Homo sapiens: one gene and its partners. The protein of the gene in region 4 interacts with the protein of the main gene of each other region in a biochemical or structural test. Each region holds a gene or a part of one and is shown on either strand. Other genes may lie near its edges.

Region 1 (4,332 bases), on a different chromosome or scaffold from region 4:
ATGATTAAGAGTTTTGGAGATTTTACAAGGGAGATTTCTAGAAAAAATTTGTTTTGCCATTCAGCTAACAAATATTACCTTCATTAGTGTTTTGGTCTCAGTAAAATGGATAGATTCGGACCTTTGTGTAACCCTGAAATGAATTCTATTAGATATAAAATAACCACCTGATAGAATGGGTTCAATCATAAAGATTCAACCATAAAACTTTAAATATTTGAGTGTTGTTATTATGTGATAATGAATAATTTCTGGATTCTCTGATGATTATGGAATTCAAAGCTTGTAGAAGGGTACATGTAGAATACAGTAGAACTAGCACGGGTCTTGGATCAGAAGATGATCAGAGCTGAGCTGAAGGCTTGTTCAGCTCTTACTCTCTGGATTACCTCTGTGAAGCCACACTTCATCTCTCTGAACTTCAGGTACCTCTTTTATATTATAGGAATGATACTGCTCCCTCCCAGGACCGTGGGGATGGTTCAGTGAGATACAGCCCATATATTGCAGTGCCAGTAAATATAAGCTGAATATAAATTTTAACTCATCTAAAAAAGTCTCAAACACGTGATTCAGCTGCCTCACTACATTTCTGAGGTTTAGAAAGTGAATTTAAAAGAGAGGATCCATGCTGAGCTGTTTACTGATTTCTGTAGAAAAAGCCTTTGGAGACTCTACATTTGAAGACTCCAAGGATGAAGTGATCCCAACTAGTGCTACTCTTGCAAATCTACTCAGACAACACCTGAAGACTTGTCGCATAAATGGTTGAGAAACTCCCATTTCTGGCCTCTTCTCTTCACCTAGGCCATGTCACCTTTCTCTCTCTTCAAATCCAATGAGTAAATGGGATTACAAGAACAAAACAGAACAGACCCACAAGGCATGTGACAGGCCAAGACCCTTTTTAATTCAAGAGATGAGCTTCTTGAGCAATTTTAAAAGAAATATTCATTCAAAAACAAAACCTATTTTCCAAGCACACCCCAGCAAAGCATTTTAAGATCCTTACGTATTCATCGTGCTCTCACTTAAAGTCAAGGTGCAGCTCTCATTTCCAAGGAGAACTCTAGTTTTCTTTAAATCAAATTTATTATTCCTCCGAAATCCAAAGTCCCAGCCACATATGGTCAGCCTTGTCCCTCCTTCAAGGGGTGCACTATTTGGGAAAACCTACAAGGACAACATAGAACTTTTAAAAAAACCCAATATATTATAATTTTTCACATATATGGAAAACGAACAAACAAAATGTATATCCTTAAATAGTCTGAAATTCTTTCATTTTCCCACAATTTAGTAAAAATTTAATTTTCACTAAAGGGAAAAGGGTCACAAATTTCAGAGCATCTGGAACAAACATTAAAACTACATGACATGTTAATGAAACAAGTTGTTTTCAGGAGATCCAAAGATGGGACAAAGAGCAGATGCAGCTTGGTAGGAATAAAGGGGCTTTTCGAGTCCTTCCGTTCTTTCTTTCTTTTCTTTCTTTCTTTCTTTCTTTCTTTCTTTCTTTCTTTCTTTCTTTCTTTCTTTCTTTCCTTTCTCTGCTTCCTTCCTTCTCTTTCTTTCTCTTTCTTTCTTTCTTTCTTTCTTTCTTTCTTTCTTTCTTTCTTTCTTTCTTTCTTTCTCTCTTTCTCTCTCTCTCTCTTTCTTTCTTTTTCTTTCCCTCCCTTCCTTTCTTCCTTCTTTCTTTTCTTTTCTTTTTCAGACAGAGTCTGGCTCTGTTGTTCAGGCTGGAGTGCAGTGGCGTGATCATGGCTCACTGCAGCCTCAACCTCTTGAGCTCAAGCAATCCTCCCACATTAGCCTCCTGAGTAGCTGGGATCACAGGCGTGGGCCACCATGCTTGGCTATTTTTTTTTTTTCTAGAGACAGGGTCTCACTACGTTGCCCAGCTGGTCTCAAACTCCTGGGCTCAAGTGATCCTCCTGCCTTGGCCTCCCAAAGTGCTAGGATTACAAGCATGAGCCATTGGACCTGGCCCTTTTTGGGCCATTCTGAAGTGAATTCATCTTCTAGGGCTCTTTAGGGTAGGAGTAGAAACACGTTGGGCCCAGACTTTTACTTGCTCATAACTCTGATTGTAACTCTTCATCAGCCTTCGGACTGAGCTCTTATCAAACTCCTTCATGTGCTCTATAAGCCAAGGTCCAGCCATTATACGCCTTGCTCTGTGCACTGGCTGCGTGCACTACATTCTGGTTGCTATGGTATTCCCCACCCAGAGACAAAAGTTGCACAGTAAAAATACCTCATTTGGTATCCAGTGTTTGCCCAGTTGCATTCAGCAGCTAGCATAATATGAAACATATAGATGGTTTTGGAACACATATCTGCCAATAATTCATTCATTCATTCATTCATTCATTATTTACTTATTTACTTTTAGAGATGGGGGTCTCACTCTTGCCCAGTCTGCAGTGCAGTGGCATAGTCCTAGCTCACTGCAGCCTCAAACTCCTGGGCTCAAGCAATCCTCCCGCCTCAGCCTCTCTAGTAGACAGGACTACAGGTGTGCGCCACCTCACCCAGCTAATTTTTAAATTTCTGTAGAGACGGGGTCTTGTTATGCTGCCCAGGTTTCATTAATTATTTCTTAATAAAGCACCTCCTATGCACCAGGCACTAACAAATGAAAAGTGAATCTACTTCTTTTTACCTATTAGTTCACATTTATTAATGACTGAAGATTTTTCCTTGTTCTTTAAATATGGTCACTATTTGATGTATACCAGGCTGGTTAGTTGACACACTCAGCCTTTTAAAAATTATGTAATATTTAATACATGTGTTATGTTGTTTCTTTTAGAAATAGATAAAAACGGAACCAGAGAGGGCCCAAAATCAGTATTGTAACAATTTTTCCTAATTATCTTCATTGGTATTGTTTTATATCTCATTTTTAGGATTAAATTTTTCCCCCTGATGGTTGATGTTAAGCAAATAACAGACTCATTTTGTTATTGCAGACTCATTTCTGGTATGTTATCAATGGATTTATTGATAAACCTTGGTCAGTCATGATTTAAGACCGCATTAGGCACCTATAAAGTGTGTAAGATAATTGCTCTCAGGCTAAAACTATTAAAACAAAACACATTTCCAAGTTAAAAATAAGCTTCTTCTCAGCAGCTTTGTGACAATTGAGAAAGGAAATGCTCTTTTGGGGGTGGGGACATATTGTAAATTGTGCTGTAAAGTACAATGGTGGGAAAACTAAGATAGAGGCAACTCAAGAACCAGTAAAGGTATTTGCTAAAGCTCAGCTTGTGAACATCTAAAAGTGATTCTTTTACAATTAAGAAGGGCTTTTAGCCAAATTCAAACTTGCAAACATTTCCATCCTTCCTAAGTAAATAATTGCAAACCAAAGTCTTAATGTACCCTCGTTATCAAACCCCTTTAAAGTTTTAGCTTAAAGCTTTTATGATAGCCATTTTACCCATAAAAATCCATTACACTGTTGTGCCTTTCCTGAAAATTTACCTCATCCATGTCTAGTCAAATGAGAACTACTAGAAAAATAAATCTGTTTATTATTATTATGGTAGAAATCCAGTAGGAGAGAACAAGACATCCAACCCTCCCAGGACTCTCTTCAGCCTGAGGCAGTCACACAGCTGCTGCCGGCTCTTCTAATGAGGAGGCTTCCCCACTGAAAACGCTGCCCAAGGCTGATGTTGGCCTGATCCCACTGCCTACATCCCGTCTTTCTATGTAAAAACTGAAGTCTGTCACTCTACACACATCATTACCATCACTTTCTATAAAAGGCAAACGGATTGGGTGATGATTTGAGAAAAGACGCAGAGAGCTGCGCAACTGGGGCACTGGCAATAGGAAGAGATATTATAAGCCCTCTGCTAGACCCTCAGGATCCAAGAGGCTCGCTCTGCTTAGCTTTTCTCTCTGGGCTGGGCATTTTCCCCTTAGCTTATGGGGTAACCTTTACCCTTCTAGGGAAAAAGGAAGGAAGCAGTTGTGAACTACACACCCTTGGATAGACCCAACAATGGCTGGCAAACTCTGAGTTATCCTGAAGGGCAGAGAAACTCTGTGGGCAGGAAATGAGCGTCCGGCATAAAGCCACAGAGGCTGGGTCTCCTACCTGTCTGGATAGGGGAGATACAGCCACAAAAGTAGCCCTTGTCTTTTCACAGGTGAAAGATCACATCACTGATGGGCCCATTCCAACAGTATTTTAAATGATCATGCTTTCAAAACCCATTAGGATAAAACATGAGAAAACTAAAAAACAAAAACAAAACAGAACAAAAAAACTCCAAAAGGGGTCTCCTTTCCTCTTTAGTAGAACTCACAAATATA
Region 2 (4,332 bases), on a different chromosome or scaffold from region 4:
ATACGAGGTCGGGATGTGGAAATAAGGGATCAAGGTGCAGAGATATAAGAGGTGGGGGCATGGAAATAAGGGATTGGGGCACAGAGATAAGAGGTTGGGGCACAGAAATAAGGGATTGGGGCGCAGAGATATGAGGTTGGAGTACTTGCTCCTCCTCTAGAAAAGCGGGACTTGCCGCTCAGGGTGAAGGAGAAGGGGTTGGGGGTTTCTTGCCCCCCAGAAAGGCGGAGAAGGGGTAGAGACACGGAGAGAAGGGGTTGGGGTCCTTGCCCATTCCCCAGAAAAGCGGGACTTGCCGCTAAGGGTGAAGGACCAAGGCAGGCGTCCCTGCGTGGTCTGACACCTCTGAAACCTGGGTGAATAATCAGAGAGGTGTCCCTGCAATGATTAAACACCAAGGGAAGGCTGCCTTCCCAGTCCGTGACCGGCGCTGGAGTTTTGGGTCCACGGATAAAACGTGTCTCCTTTATCTCTACCAGAAAATGAAAGGAATTGAAGTTAAGAGAAGGGAGAAATTGAAGTGTGGCGCCAAGATTGAAAGGAGAAAGAGGTTGAGGGATAGTGAGGGAGGTTGGAGAAGAGAGTAAAAAGAGGCTGCTTACTGGATTTGAAATTGGTGAGATGTTTCTTGGGCTGGTTGGTCTGAGGACTTGAGGTTGTAGGTGGATCTTTCTCATGGACCAAAGAGCAGGAGGACAGGGGATTGATCTCCCAAGGGAGGTTCCCCCCCCCCTCCCCCCGCGCCAGTTACGGCACCAAATTTAATGCACGTCCATGTGAAGAGACCACCAAACAGGCTTTGTGTGAGCAACAAGGCTGTTTATTTCACCTGGGCGCAGGTGGGCTGAGTCCGAAAAGGGAGTCAGTGAAGGGAGATAGGCGTGAGGCCGTTTTATAAGATTTGGGTAGGTAAAGGAAAAAGGGGGTTTGTTCTCTGGCGGGCAGGAGTGGGGGTGGCAACGTGCTCAGTGGGGGAGCTTTTTGAGCCAGGATGAGCCAGGAGAAGGAATTTCATAAGATAATGTCATCAGTTAAGTCAAGGACCGGCCTTTTTCACTTCTTTTGTGGTGGAATGTCATCAGTTAAGGCGGGGCAGGGCATATTCACTTCTTTTGTGATTCTTCAGTTACTTCAGGCCATCTAGGCATATACGTGCAAGTCACAGGGGATGCGATGGCTTGGCTTGGGCTCAGAGGCCTGACGCACTGTGCTGCAAGCTGCTTTCAAACAAATGCATTTATTATATCTTGGAGAACATTCCAGTCCAGCAGTTAGTGCTGCCTGCCTCTTTGACAGGCTGCAGAGGATGGCACTGTTGCATGTGCAGGAATTTTATGACCTCCCTCATGATAGAGGTTGGGGTTGCTTCCTGTTTGGGGCCATATTCTAAGAGATGCTATAGTGAACATCCTTGTTCTGTATCTTTGGGCACTTTTACCAAGATTTCAGGACCAAATACTTAAGTGGAACTGCTGGGTCAGAGGGTATGTGCATTTGAAATTTTGGTAGATAAGTCCAGAATGCCCTCCAAGGGGTAGCCTCCAACTACCCCCTCGTTAATCCACCCTCCATTCAGCAAAGTGAGTTGTAAAGTTGACTGAATCATCTAATAATCCTGCTTAAAACTGCCAGGAGCTTCCGCGGAGACCCCCACTTGCAATTCTGTGTGCACAGTCCCCTCCTTCAAGGCCGCAGCCACGCCAGGCTCTCCTGTCCCTCCCACACAGTGGCTTGAACCCACAACAGGGTCTTTGCATGTGCAAGGCCCTTGCACCCAGTGCCCTCAGAGCTCCATGGAATGCCTTCTTCCCATTCCTCAGTCTCACATTGTACCTCCTGGTGCAGGCTGCAGGCCTCGCCAGCCTCAGTCAAATGTAACGTTCCTAGGCCAAGCCACGAATTGCCCAACTGGGTGGTCCGGCTGCCCTGCTATCTCACTTGTTTGTGTGCTTATTGTCAACTCTACCTATGAGGAGTGAGCTCCTAAAAGCAGAGATTCGGCCAGCGCAGGTAGCTCACACCTGTAATCCCAGCACTTTGGGAGGATGAGGCGGGCGGATCACCTGAGCTCAGGAGTTCAAGACCATCCTGGCCAACATGGTGAAACCCCGTTTCTACTGAAAATACAAAAATTATCCAGGCATTGTGGTGCACGCCTGTAATCGCAGCTACTCGGGAGGCTGAGGCAGGAGAATTGCTTGAACCTGGGAGGCGGAGGTGGCAGTGAGCTGAGATCGCGCCATTGCACTCCAGCCTGGGCAACAGAGCGAGACTCCGTCTCAAAAAACAAAAACAAAACAAAACAAAAAAAACACAGAGATTCTTGACTGTGTCTCCGGTCACAGTGCCTGACACTTAGTAGGTGTTTAAGAAGGAGATGCTGGCTGGTTACCACCCTCTGCCAACATGAGGGTGGTAAGTGACATCTATCTGAGATGCCTGTGGTCCAGCTGATGTTGACAGGGTCCTCAGGGTGCCCCCCACCCCCTCACTGAAGCATGAGCTCTTCTACACCCGCCAGAGGTCACTGGGCAGAGGCCAAAGTTGCAGGGACCATGCTGAATGCTGGGCCCATCCCAGCAACATTTTACTGTTGTGGAGACTGTTTCCCTGCTGTTGGGTGAGGTCAAGCATTGATGTTTAAGGGTCTGTCTGTTTCTTTGTAATTCAATTGCTGCCCATGCCCTTAACCTGTTTGCCTTTCCGGTTTTCTGTTTCTTATTGACATTACGAACTCTCTGTAATGAAGATAAGTGAGGTCTTTGTCTCTCATTTGTGTTGCAATGTTTTTTTTTCTCAGTTGCTAGTCTTTTAGGCTTTGGACTAATTTTCCACGTAAGTTTCAATTTCATGGAGTCAAGTTCATTAGTCATTTCCTGTATTTTTTTTTTTTTTTTAAGAGTTGGGTCTTGCTCTGTCACCCAGGCTAGAAAGCTGGTGTGATCATAGCTCACTGTAACCTCCAACTCCCAGGCTCAAGGGTTCCTCCTGCCTTGGCTCCTGGGTAGCTGGGACTTTAGGCCTGTATGATTTCTAACTGTGATGTGATGAGATCCCCTCCCCTGGCTCTGTGAGGCCTGGGGCTGGGCTTTTCCAGGAGTAGGAGAGGGTGAATTTTGGTGCCTGCAAAGCAGCCTGGCCTCGCGTGATGCCAAAGCAAAAGCTTGGGGCCTGGGGCAGATGGAATCTGGCTTGCATCTGGGGGTTAACTGGGCAGTTGTGGGGCACTGGAATGAGAGGAGAGGGAGAGTGGGACTCCTGAGACCCTGCTGTGGGATGAGGGTGAGAGAATGGCAGGGAGGTAGACAGGAAGCACAGACCCTCAGCCCCCTGGGACTTGGTGCCCAGGTTGGTAAAAAAAAAAAAAAAAAAAAAAAAAAGAGTGGGGGGACTCGCTTTTTCCAAGCCTGTGACTGACAGAGCAGCGTCTCCACCCATGGAAGCTGCTCAGGGGCCACCTGCATGTTGGCACAGTGGGCAAGGAGGGGCTGCCCATTATCCCCAGACAGCGAGTGGGTCTGGGAGGGACTGAGCCCGTGCTGTGGTCATAAGCGCTCAAAAGACAGAGGCCACAGCTTCGTTCTTGAAAGAATCTGTTTATTTTGAGATTAAAAGAGTCTCATCTCCCTGCATATCCAGCAAATACTAAATTTGATCTTTTTAATTTTAGAAAAGGGTCAACAAACTTCAGCTGGAGTATGATCTCTCTTTCAAACTCCCATTCTGGTTTAAGGAGCCCCAAAGGGTAACTCTTGACAAAAAAGTGGCTATGTTTGCACATGTGTGTGCATATGTGTGTGCATGTGTGTAATGCATGTGCATAGTTTATAAAATGTTTGCTGTTGTATCCATAAATCCCCTGTGGACAACGTTCCTTTTCGTACTCCGCTGTACACGTGTGCAGTGAATGTTTAGCAAATACATAATTTGGTATAAATCCCATACAATGTGATTTCACAACCAGAAGCCTGACTGCTGAGATATTACTGAATTTTTTAAAGTGATAAACAAGATTATTATGTGCAAACAAACAGGGCCTGTGCTCCAGCTGCGTCCAAATTTACTTGACAAAGCTATAAACACAAGGCCCTTTCTGAAGTCCTGCTGATTGAGTTTCCCCTTCCTTTTGTCGGTGGAGAGGAATGTAAAGGCTAAGCGGGTGCACTCGGACTGTGTGCCTCTGGGCTTGCTGGCGGTGGCACTTAAAGGAACTCATTCATTCTCTGGATGGGGCAACACTCCTCACCCGGGATCCCCCAAGGGCTTTCCCACACGGAGACCTTCCCGAACACAGAGACATCTGATCTTGGCTTGCCCAAGCTGGCCCAGGCC
Region 3 (4,332 bases), on a different chromosome or scaffold from region 4:
TGACAAAGCAGATGCATTCATAGTAGCCAAAACCTGGAAACAGCCCAAATGTGTATTCACTGTTGAATCCTAGGTAAAATGTGGTGTATCTTTACAATAACTACTGATAATTTTTTAAAATTCTAACTATGACACATGCAACTAAGTGAATGAATCTTCAGAACATTACATTGAGTGCAATATGTTAGGAGTGAAAAAGTACTTACTGTTTGTTTCATTTTATTTACATGCAATGGGTAAAAAGACAAACTTAATCTGTAGTTAACAGAAAGTTGATCAGAAGGTACGTGAGTCTGGTCAAAGGAGCTGAGTTGACTGGGAAGTACCACAGAAGGACATTTTGGGATCACAGAAATTTTCTTTATCTTGATTGTGGTGTTGGTTATGTGGATGTATACATTTGTTAAAAATGCATTAAACTGTATCTCAAATGGGTACATTTTAATGTAAATTTTACTTCAGACATTTTATTTAAACATTTATCAGTTTTTCTCAGTTTCAAATGACTAGTTACTGGAAGCAATGACAAGTGCTACTCAATGACTGCTAAATTTATTGGTGCTATGAATGCCAGATTTTTAGCACAGCAAAATCTACAAATTCCAGGATTTTTAGGTAGTATCTGGGCAAGAATATATATGAATAATGTATATGAAAGGAAGAGGGGGTTCTTAGATATCTTCAAGTCAGTGGAATGCTTAGGTTTCACAGTGCCAATCTGGTGTGACATTTACTTTGTTAAAGGAATTTACTCTAAAACAAATTAAATGAGCCCAGATGCATTTCTTTAAATTTTATTTTGAATTCATCATTTGTCAAAATATGGTTATCAATAATGCATGCTTATAATATGAAGAATGCTTTATCCATGTCTTATTTTTCATATTACATAACATTCTTATTCTTTTAACAGGTCCAGGAGAGCCTCAGATTATTTTTTGTAGAAGTGAAGCTGCACATCAAGGAGTAATTACCTGGAATCCCCCTCAAAGATCATTTCATAATTTTACCCTCTGTTATATAAAAGAGACAGGTAATTTGTGTAGAATTTAATTTCATCAGAAAAGAGAAATCAAGAATTTGAAAGTACTAGAAATTTTTATTGAGCCAGTGAGTCACAAAGCTCTCTGCTTAGAGACTGCATAGGCATAGTATACTCCCTGATCTTAGAATTGCTTCCACTCATTCAAAGCTTTCCAGCCCCAGAAATGACTAAAATCCAGAACATTCTAAATATTTGCTTGTCCTTCTTGGTCTTAGTTTAAATCTTTGTGCTCCAAAGCCTAGAGACAGAAAACCTCTGGATGACAACACTCATTTCTGTCTTGCAAGTATTATGTAAGTGATTTGACTCACTTTGAACTCATCATTCAGCCTCCTAAACAAACCAACAAACAAGCAAACCCCTTGTAAAACTTGTTTCAGCTAATAATACAGACAAAATGTTGGGTGAATAAAAATGAACATGGGCCCATGTAGCCGCTGGGGCCAGTTTGGTGTAATCTTGGGAGCATAGTTCTAAGTTTAGAATTAGACTTCTGCAGAAGTAATGCAATTAAAAAAAAAAAGAAGAAGAAAGAAATGTGCTATGACTAGTTCACTCATGAAATGTTCAAATGAGATGCTATTTAAGAGAACAAATATCTTCTGGACAATTTAAAGTATCTAAATTGTTTGTAGAAAGTAACATCAGTGGAGTATCTCAGAGCAGCCTCAATGCCTGGGATAGCCCTTTCTCTATTCTTTTATCCATAGGTTAAAATAGGAATGAAGTGAACCTCATAGAATTCTGTCACTCTGTGCTGTGGGGAAGGAACCAGACATACACTTCAAAACTTGAAAAGTGAAAGGCTATTTTTCTTCATTATGTTATTTTATATTTTAATGGCCTTTTCTTGCTAGTGTCTTTAGGTCTTAATAATCAGACTACTAAAGCAAAGTTAAATATGCATGTAGTTTTCAAATTAACATTCAAAGGCCAAGGAAAATAAATATATACTATATATTTGAGGTTATGATAAATTTAAAAGTTAAGTCTATGTGGAAGGAAAAATGGAAATTCCAGGAAGATAAAACAGCAGAGGTACTGTCTGCCTCATTGGACACCTCTTTTACAAACACTTTGTGTAGCTTCTATGGGAACACATTGTTCATTTTTTTTTTCTCTTCTCTGAATCTTCTATTCACTATCCCTTTCTGCATTCCTCAATGTCTACACTCTCTCTACTAGAGAGTATTGTCGATGTCAGAGTATATGGTAGACATTTTATGCATTTATGGCTCTTTTATATTTTTACAGTTTTTTTAAACTGTATTTCCACTGTATTTGCATAATTAGGGTAAAAAGGATGTAATGAGTTAGTAGCAACTCATTACAGCAACTAGCATGGGTCCTTCTTATTGGGCAACTAAATAGTGTTACCCAAATTTAACAGCTGTCCACATAGAACACTTAAACGGGATTGAATGGCTGAGAAGGGGAGGCTAGCTATCAGGCTGTGTGTTTTCTTTTCTCCAAAGCTGCCGATTGGTGACTGAATGCAGCTTTGGACCATGCCCTGACACTGCATAAAGGGCTCTTTGGAGCCAGCTCTACTCTAAACAGCGTGCTCCGCTTTTGTTTTCTCCTTCATCTCAAACATATACCTGTCTCCTCTCCCATGTTACCTAAGGCAAAGAGAGTTGATAGGATTATAGTATCGTTAAGGCAACTTAACTTTTCTCACCATTTTAAATAAAATTACTATTAAAAATCCACAGGAAGAAAGTCTATGAAATTTGCAGTTTACTTTTTAATCAGATATTAAATTTCACTTCATTACTTCACAATTTAATTTTTTCAGTGTCTCTAAAAGAGAGGGATTAAAAGAGGAGAAAAAATGCAATTGACATTAATTTAGTTTTATTGGTTTAGCAGGTTTTTTTAATTATGTATTATTTAAAGATTTTATCAACTATTTTAATAACTCAGTGGAGATGTGCATACATATCTTCATAGTTCATATGATGAAACTGAGGTTAACAGAAAATGTGATAGATGTTCAAGTTCAGTAGCTTGATCTGTTTCCTTTCTGCTCTTGGTTTTGTTTGTTTGTTTGTTTGAGAGGGAGTCTCCCTCTGTCGCCCAGGCTGGAGTGCAGTCATGCGATCTCGGCTCACTGCAAGCTCCGCCTCCCAGGTTCACGCCATTCTCCCGCCTCAGCCTCCCTAGTAGCTGGGACTACAGGCGCCCGCCACCACGCCCGGCTAATTTTTTTGTATTTTTAGTAGAGACGGGGTTTCACTGTGTTAGCCAGGATAGTCTGGATCTCCTGATCTCGTGTGATCCGATCCGCCCGCCTCGGCCTCCCAAAGTGTGTTTGTTTATTTTTCCTCACATTTTTAGCTTAAGATATTTTGGAGAACTGCAGTTTTATCTCGTTAACTTAATGATGGCAAGTGACAGTGAAGCTTCTTGGTAATTGGGGAATTGGGGAAGAGATCTTTTGTGCTTTATTGGATTTAAAGGATTATTTTTCAAAAGTTACTGAAAGCAATAGGCACCTTTCAAGACCACCATGATGTTGCTGGAAATTATTTTGTGTAATGCCTTTTATTTTTTTAAGAAAAAAAAAACAGAACAAATTGCTTAATCTCTCTGTGGCTCAGTTTTGTCATCTGTAAAATCAGATGATAGTGAGTACCAACTAATAGTTGCAGTGATGGTTAAATTAATTATTTCATGTATACCCCTTGAAACAGTGCTTGGCACATACAGTGAGTTATTATTTTTAAAAATCGTTATTGATATTATTATTACTGTTGCTGCTATCCAGAAACATGTTGCCACTCTAATCATCCTCTTTCCTGATGTCACTTGGCTACTCAAAAATAGCAGCAGCTGGTGATTTTTTTACTTAACAAGTGCTAAGTCTTCTGCCTGAGTGTGAAAACACACTTAGACACTGTCCTACCTCTCATATGCCTCCCCAGCCAGAGCTGTTGTCCTGATCAGGTTTGTCACTAAACTCAAAAACATTCCTTCTTCCGTTTGTAATATTTTCTTTTCTCCCTTACATGTATTCAGTTCCACTTACCTTTCAATGAACAGCTGAATTCCACTTCCGGCATGAAACTCCCTCATTCTCACAGCTCCCGTTAATTACTGTAGTGTCCAAATTACTATGATAGAATCAACCCAATGACTGATGATCAAATGGATTCTGCATCTAACATTCAAAACAGTAGCTAATACCGATGTTCAAAGTTTGGAGGTTACATATCAGAAAAGGTTTTCTAAAAAAGAATCATTCTGAAACATGCAACTCAAGACTTACAGTATACACTGGGGGC
Region 4 (5,163 bases):
TGTGTCATTATAGTTTGTTGAATAGATGCAAAACCTGAAGCACAGGAAAATAATTCCAGTTAATAGTTAACTTAGAAATCCATGCAAGGTAATGAAACAATATGTATAAAAACCCCTGTGACTCATGTTTGCCTACGTAACAAACCTTCACATGTACCCCCAAACCTAAAATAAAAGAAAAAAGAAATCCACCCAAGGCTTTAAACATTAGACCATGATATCTAGAAAGATGACAAAGGGGCTGGGCGCAGTGGCTCATGCCTGTAATCCCAGCACTTTGGGAGGCTGAAGCTGGCAGATCACTTGAGGTCAGGAGTTCGAGACCAGCCTGGCCAACGTGGCAAAAGCTCACCTCTACTAAAAATACAAAAAATAGCCGGGCGTGGTGGCACATGCCTATAGTCCCAGTTATTCAGGAGGCTGAGGCATGAGAATCTCCTAAACCCAGGAGGTGAAGATTGCAGTGAGTCGAGATCATGCCACTGTACTCCAGCCAGGGTGACAAAGTGAGACTTTGTCTCAAAAAAAAAAAAAAAAGAAAGATGTCAAAAGAAAAATCTGAACAGGAGCTCACTCTGCTGTAGTTCTTTATCAAGAAACTACATTAATGCAAAATTCTCTAACATTGCTGGTTGCCTTGCACACCTTACTGGGCCATGATTACTCAAGCAGTAGAGAAATGGCACAATGGATAGGAAGGCTGGAGTTTCCTGAGGACATAAGATGCCTTCCCGGGTCACACAAAGTTTCATAAACTCTAGACCAGGTACTGAGGTCAAATGTCATTGCACAGTTACATAACAACTCTTCCATGTTTTGTTACTGATCCTTGGAAAGTTTTCCTATAGACATCCAATAAGATGAAATGAGGCTCTACACATTACCAACAAGAACACAGTCTCTGCAAATGACCTGTCAGGTTCTTCTAGTTTTATCTGACCTATAACTGGGTACATAACATGGCCTCAAGCATTCTGGCTCTTCTTGTCCTCACATAACAGAGACACTGTAATTCTAAAAGGTCAAAAAAGAGAAAAAATGGAAACTTCACATTGCTAGTGAGTTATTTTATGACCTTCTAAAACTGATGAATAAAAGCTAGAAATCAGTCAGGTGTGGTGGCTCACACCTGTAATCCTAGAACTTTGGGAGGCCGAGGTGGGAGAATCACTTGAGGCCAGGAGTTCAAGACCAACCTGGCCAACATAGCAAGGCCTCATCGCTGCTTAATTTTCGTTTCAATGAGCTGGATGCAGTCATATGCATCTGCAATCCTAGCTACTCAGGAGGCTGAAGCCAGAGGCTGAAGCTCAAACCTTCTATTTAAGCCCAGGAGTTCGAGGCTGCAGTAATCTATGGTGATGGCACCACTGTGCTCCAGCCTAAGCAACAGAGCAAGACTCTGTCTCTAAAACAAAAAAAAAGAAAAAAAAAATCTAAGTGTCCAACAACTGGGGAGTGGCTCAAAATACCACCGTATGCTAACATGACAGAATTACCCAAAGAAAATTATGCATGGACTAATTACAACGTCATAAAGTAACTACCTGTGTATAAATAAAGATTGTAGAATTTGGAGTTACATAAACAGTTGTAACATAATGCTCCTTAATTATTTTCTAGAACATTGCTAAAGATTTATTAAAAGTCAGCTGGTAATAGAGATGACTGGAAGGGGATTCACAAAGATTCTCTCTGGAATGGTTTTAGGGTTATTTTTAATTTCTTCTTTGTAAGCTTCAGTATTGTTTACATCTTCTAACAAGGAATATATAAAACTCTACAAAATGACAATTTTTTTTTACTGATGGCAAGGAGAGTCCAAGGAGCACACCAGGTGTCTGAGAACCTCGGTGGCACCCAAAGATCAAACTTTTGCCTGGGGGAAGCAAGATGGTGTGTCAACAGCTCTGAGCCTAAAAAATGTCTTCTGGCTAGGACTCCAGAACTTATGAACAAGAATTATTTCATGCAATGCTTCTATAACTGGTTTAAGTATGTGACAAAGACACTGACAATCCTTAAAAAAATTCAAAAGCATGTATACCTAAATTTACATGTCTGACAGCATTCAAACCCAGTTAAATTGTATTTCTGTTTCCCTGCATGGTTGAAGGATCAAGCATTTTTATCACCCAAGCAGGAAAATGAAGAAATCAACTGCCTTCTACAAATCAAAAATAACCCTAATAGTAAAAACTAACTTTGTTGCATGCTTAAATCATATTGGCAGAAAAATGAAACTTTAAATCACTCTTGTAAGAAAAAAAGCCAGTTTCATTTTTGGGGCAGTCATATGGAAATCCCACAAGTCGTGGTTGAAACATAATATTGAGGAGTATGTGAGGACATTAAGAGTTTCTAAGGAAATAGTAACAAAAGATATCATTGGAATTCCATGAAGGATAAGAGAAGAAAAATCAAAGGTTTTTCCTACTAAATCACATTATAATGTCACCAAAATTAAAAATAAAAGGAGTAGGATACTTGACAGGGAGTTTCACCTTGTAAGTATCTCATATAGTACATGACAAGTTAAAGTCTGTCGCTTTGATACTCTATTGTAAGCATTTCAAGGTTAAAAGCTTTAACCTTGAAAAACAAATGACATATAGTTACAAAAGGCAAAAGTATATATTGTAGAAATCCAAACAAAAGTGTTCCTCCTTTAGAAACATAAAACTGATGAGATAACATAATGAATACTTACTTCCCTCCCTCCTCCAAAAGCCATTCTTTGTAGCCATAAAAACTAAGATAATCATAACACTATGCTAAGAAAAAATATACAGATGGAAAATAATGATAATAATGTATGTTGTCCTTTCAAGAATGTTTTCAGTGAAGAATATTTCTAAATAATACAAGAAACAATACACTTGAGAAAACTTAAATTGAATGCTCTATATTTCAATCCATATATAGACAAGTGATGTGAAAGTCTAATCAAGAATTTAGAGAATTTAGATTGTTGAGTACAACTTGGGTAATTGTGACCAAATGTCTCTTTTTTTTTTTTTGAGACGGAGTCTTGCTCTGTTGCCCAGGCTGGAGTGCAGTGGTGCGATCTCAGCTAACTGCAACCTCTGCTACCTGAGTTCAAGAGATTCTCCTGCCTCAGCCTCCCGAGTAGCTGGAATTACAGGCACGTGCCACCAGGCCCACCTAATTTTTGTATTTTTAGTAAAGATGGGGTTTCACCATATTGGCCAGGCTGGTCTTGAACTCCTGACTTCAAGTGATCCACCTGCCTCAGCCTTCCAAAGTGCTAGGATTACAGCCATGAGCCACCACTCTTGGCCCAAATATCATTTTTTCTTAACTATAAAGTGTCCAAAATTGTCTGGAAAATTCATTCAGTATATTAAGTACTTGCTTGGTACTATGCTTTCCCTAGGAAAGAACTTCTGTGAAGACCCAGTACATTACAGAAAAACTATACTGCCTGGAAAAGGGAGGTTCCAATGACTTCAAAGACTTCGTTTAGAAAAGGGAAGGATGCTTGTGGAAGCACAGTGGGAGGAATGAGCTCTGCAGTATCCCTACTAGCCAAGCTTTTGTTCACAATGGTGCCTAGTGGTACCTGCTGAAAAAGCCTTTTTAACCATCTGTCATCCTCCAAAGATAAAGTAATTGTTGCACCCACTCCATTGTCACAATCGCCAGCACTCCTGTTTTCTGTATTGCCAATGCATAGCTGCCATCATGGGAAGATCGAGCTTTGCTTTTTCTGCACAGATAAGATGGCTTAGGAACAATTATCCTCCTACTTTTGTGGAAACTGACTCTTGTCATCATGTGTGTAACCATAAAGAATGTTGATGTTACAAAGCAACTGGGAGAGCATGCTGGAAGTTCACAGCCCATTAAGGGAGCCTGAGGAATGACTCAACTGATGAAATGACGTTGGGAAAGTCGTGATCATCCACAAACGGCAGGGTACATCAGCCCAGCCAGAAACAGGAACTTGGTTCACATTCCAAGGAGGGCACAAGTGGAAAGGGAAGTAAGGGTGCTGCTGCTGGTAAGGCAGTTGTGTGATAAACTGGCCTCCAGAAGGAAATAATGATAACTTCCATTGAGGCCACATGGCCATCAATGACACCAATCCCATCTTTCAGATTAAAATAATATTGGACTTAATAGAAGCTGCACTTCACTGAAAGGTAAAACATTCAGAGGTCAAGATGGCAGAAAGAGTCATCCTACACAAAGTGAATTCAAGAAACAGGAACAATAGGCCAGGCGGTGGCTCACACCTGTAATCTCAGCACTTTGGGAGGCCAAGGCAGGCAGATCACCTGAGGCCAGGAGTTCGAGGCCAGCCTGGCCAACATGGTGAAACCCTGTCTCTACTAAAAATACAAAAATTAGCTGGGTGTGGTGGCGTGCACCTGTAATCCCAGCTACTCGGGAGGCTGACGCAGGAGAATCACTTGAACCCAGGAGCTGAGATCATGCCACTGCACTCCAGTCTGGGTGACAGAGCGAGACTGTCTCCACCCCCGCCAAAAAAAAGAAAAGAAAGAAAGAAAGAAACAGGAACAAGGGCTCTATGCCAGTAATCTACGTACCACCCAACCTAAGATATAGGTTTTGCCCCCTATGACAACTATGATCAATTGGTAGTGTACACTTAGAGTTGTATATGAAGGCATCTGAGGTCCAAACTCGGCTCAGCGGCCCAGCCTGATCCGAAAATGTTTCCTGTGGGTAGAGGAAGGGGAAAACAGCAACACACTGCTATGACTGAATGGTGCCAGTCTCTGGATAGAGATTGGTAAAGAAATTATACTCTAGCCACTATTAGCAGACTGGACAAAAACCTCTACTTTCTCTCCCTTCTGAAAGCCTAAGACAATGACAATAAAGAAATTTTTTTATTTCATGTATAAATCAGCAAGGATGGAGAGAATGAGTGAAGAGACAATAGCAAAAACATTTTGGTGGAATAAGCAGAAGCCAAGAAATAATCTGATTTACACCATGGAATCTCCAAAAGGTTAAATAATTAAAGGCAATTGAACCCTCTATAAAAAGAGGGGTGGGCTAAAAAATTAGTGACTTTTTAAAGTCTTTTTAAAAAGCTGGATCCCACAGATCCCTCTGGCCACTCCAACCAGTTAGGTGACTGCCCCTTCTCTACCCCAGCAAAAAACCTGG

Evidence for each region. Proteins that work in one complex are often made in the same cells at the same time.
Region 1: the proteins of TEC (region 4) and MET form a complex in vitro, tested with the Homo sapiens proteins (one large-scale study listed by BioGRID and IntAct).
Region 2: the proteins of TEC (region 4) and LRRK1 form a complex in vitro, tested with the Homo sapiens proteins (one large-scale study listed by BioGRID).
Region 3: of the proteins of TEC (region 4) and PTPRC, one has a biochemical effect on the other in vitro, tested with the Homo sapiens proteins (one large-scale study listed by IntAct).

The regions. Positions count from the first base shown.
Region 1 is NC_000007.14:116,752,196-116,756,527, reverse strand, and holds part of MET (hepatocyte growth factor receptor isoform b preproprotein), read right to left. Parts: intron 1,174-4,332; coding exon 1,013-1,173; intron 1-1,012. UniProt on the Homo sapiens protein: Receptor tyrosine kinase that transduces signals from the extracellular matrix into the cytoplasm by binding to hepatocyte growth factor/HGF ligand. Regulates many physiological processes including proliferation, scattering, morphogenesis and survival.
Region 2 is NC_000015.10:101,069,357-101,073,688, reverse strand, and holds part of LRRK1 (leucine-rich repeat serine/threonine-protein kinase 1), read right to left. Parts: 3' UTR 1-4,332.
Region 3 is NC_000001.11:198,712,040-198,716,371, forward strand, and holds part of PTPRC (receptor-type tyrosine-protein phosphatase C isoform 1 precursor), read left to right. Parts: intron 1-913; coding exon 914-1,033; intron 1,034-4,332. UniProt on the Homo sapiens protein: Protein tyrosine-protein phosphatase required for T-cell activation through the antigen receptor. Acts as a positive regulator of T-cell coactivation upon binding to DPP4.
Region 4 is NC_000004.12:48,259,195-48,264,357, forward strand, and holds part of TEC (tyrosine-protein kinase Tec), read right to left. Parts: intron 1-5,163.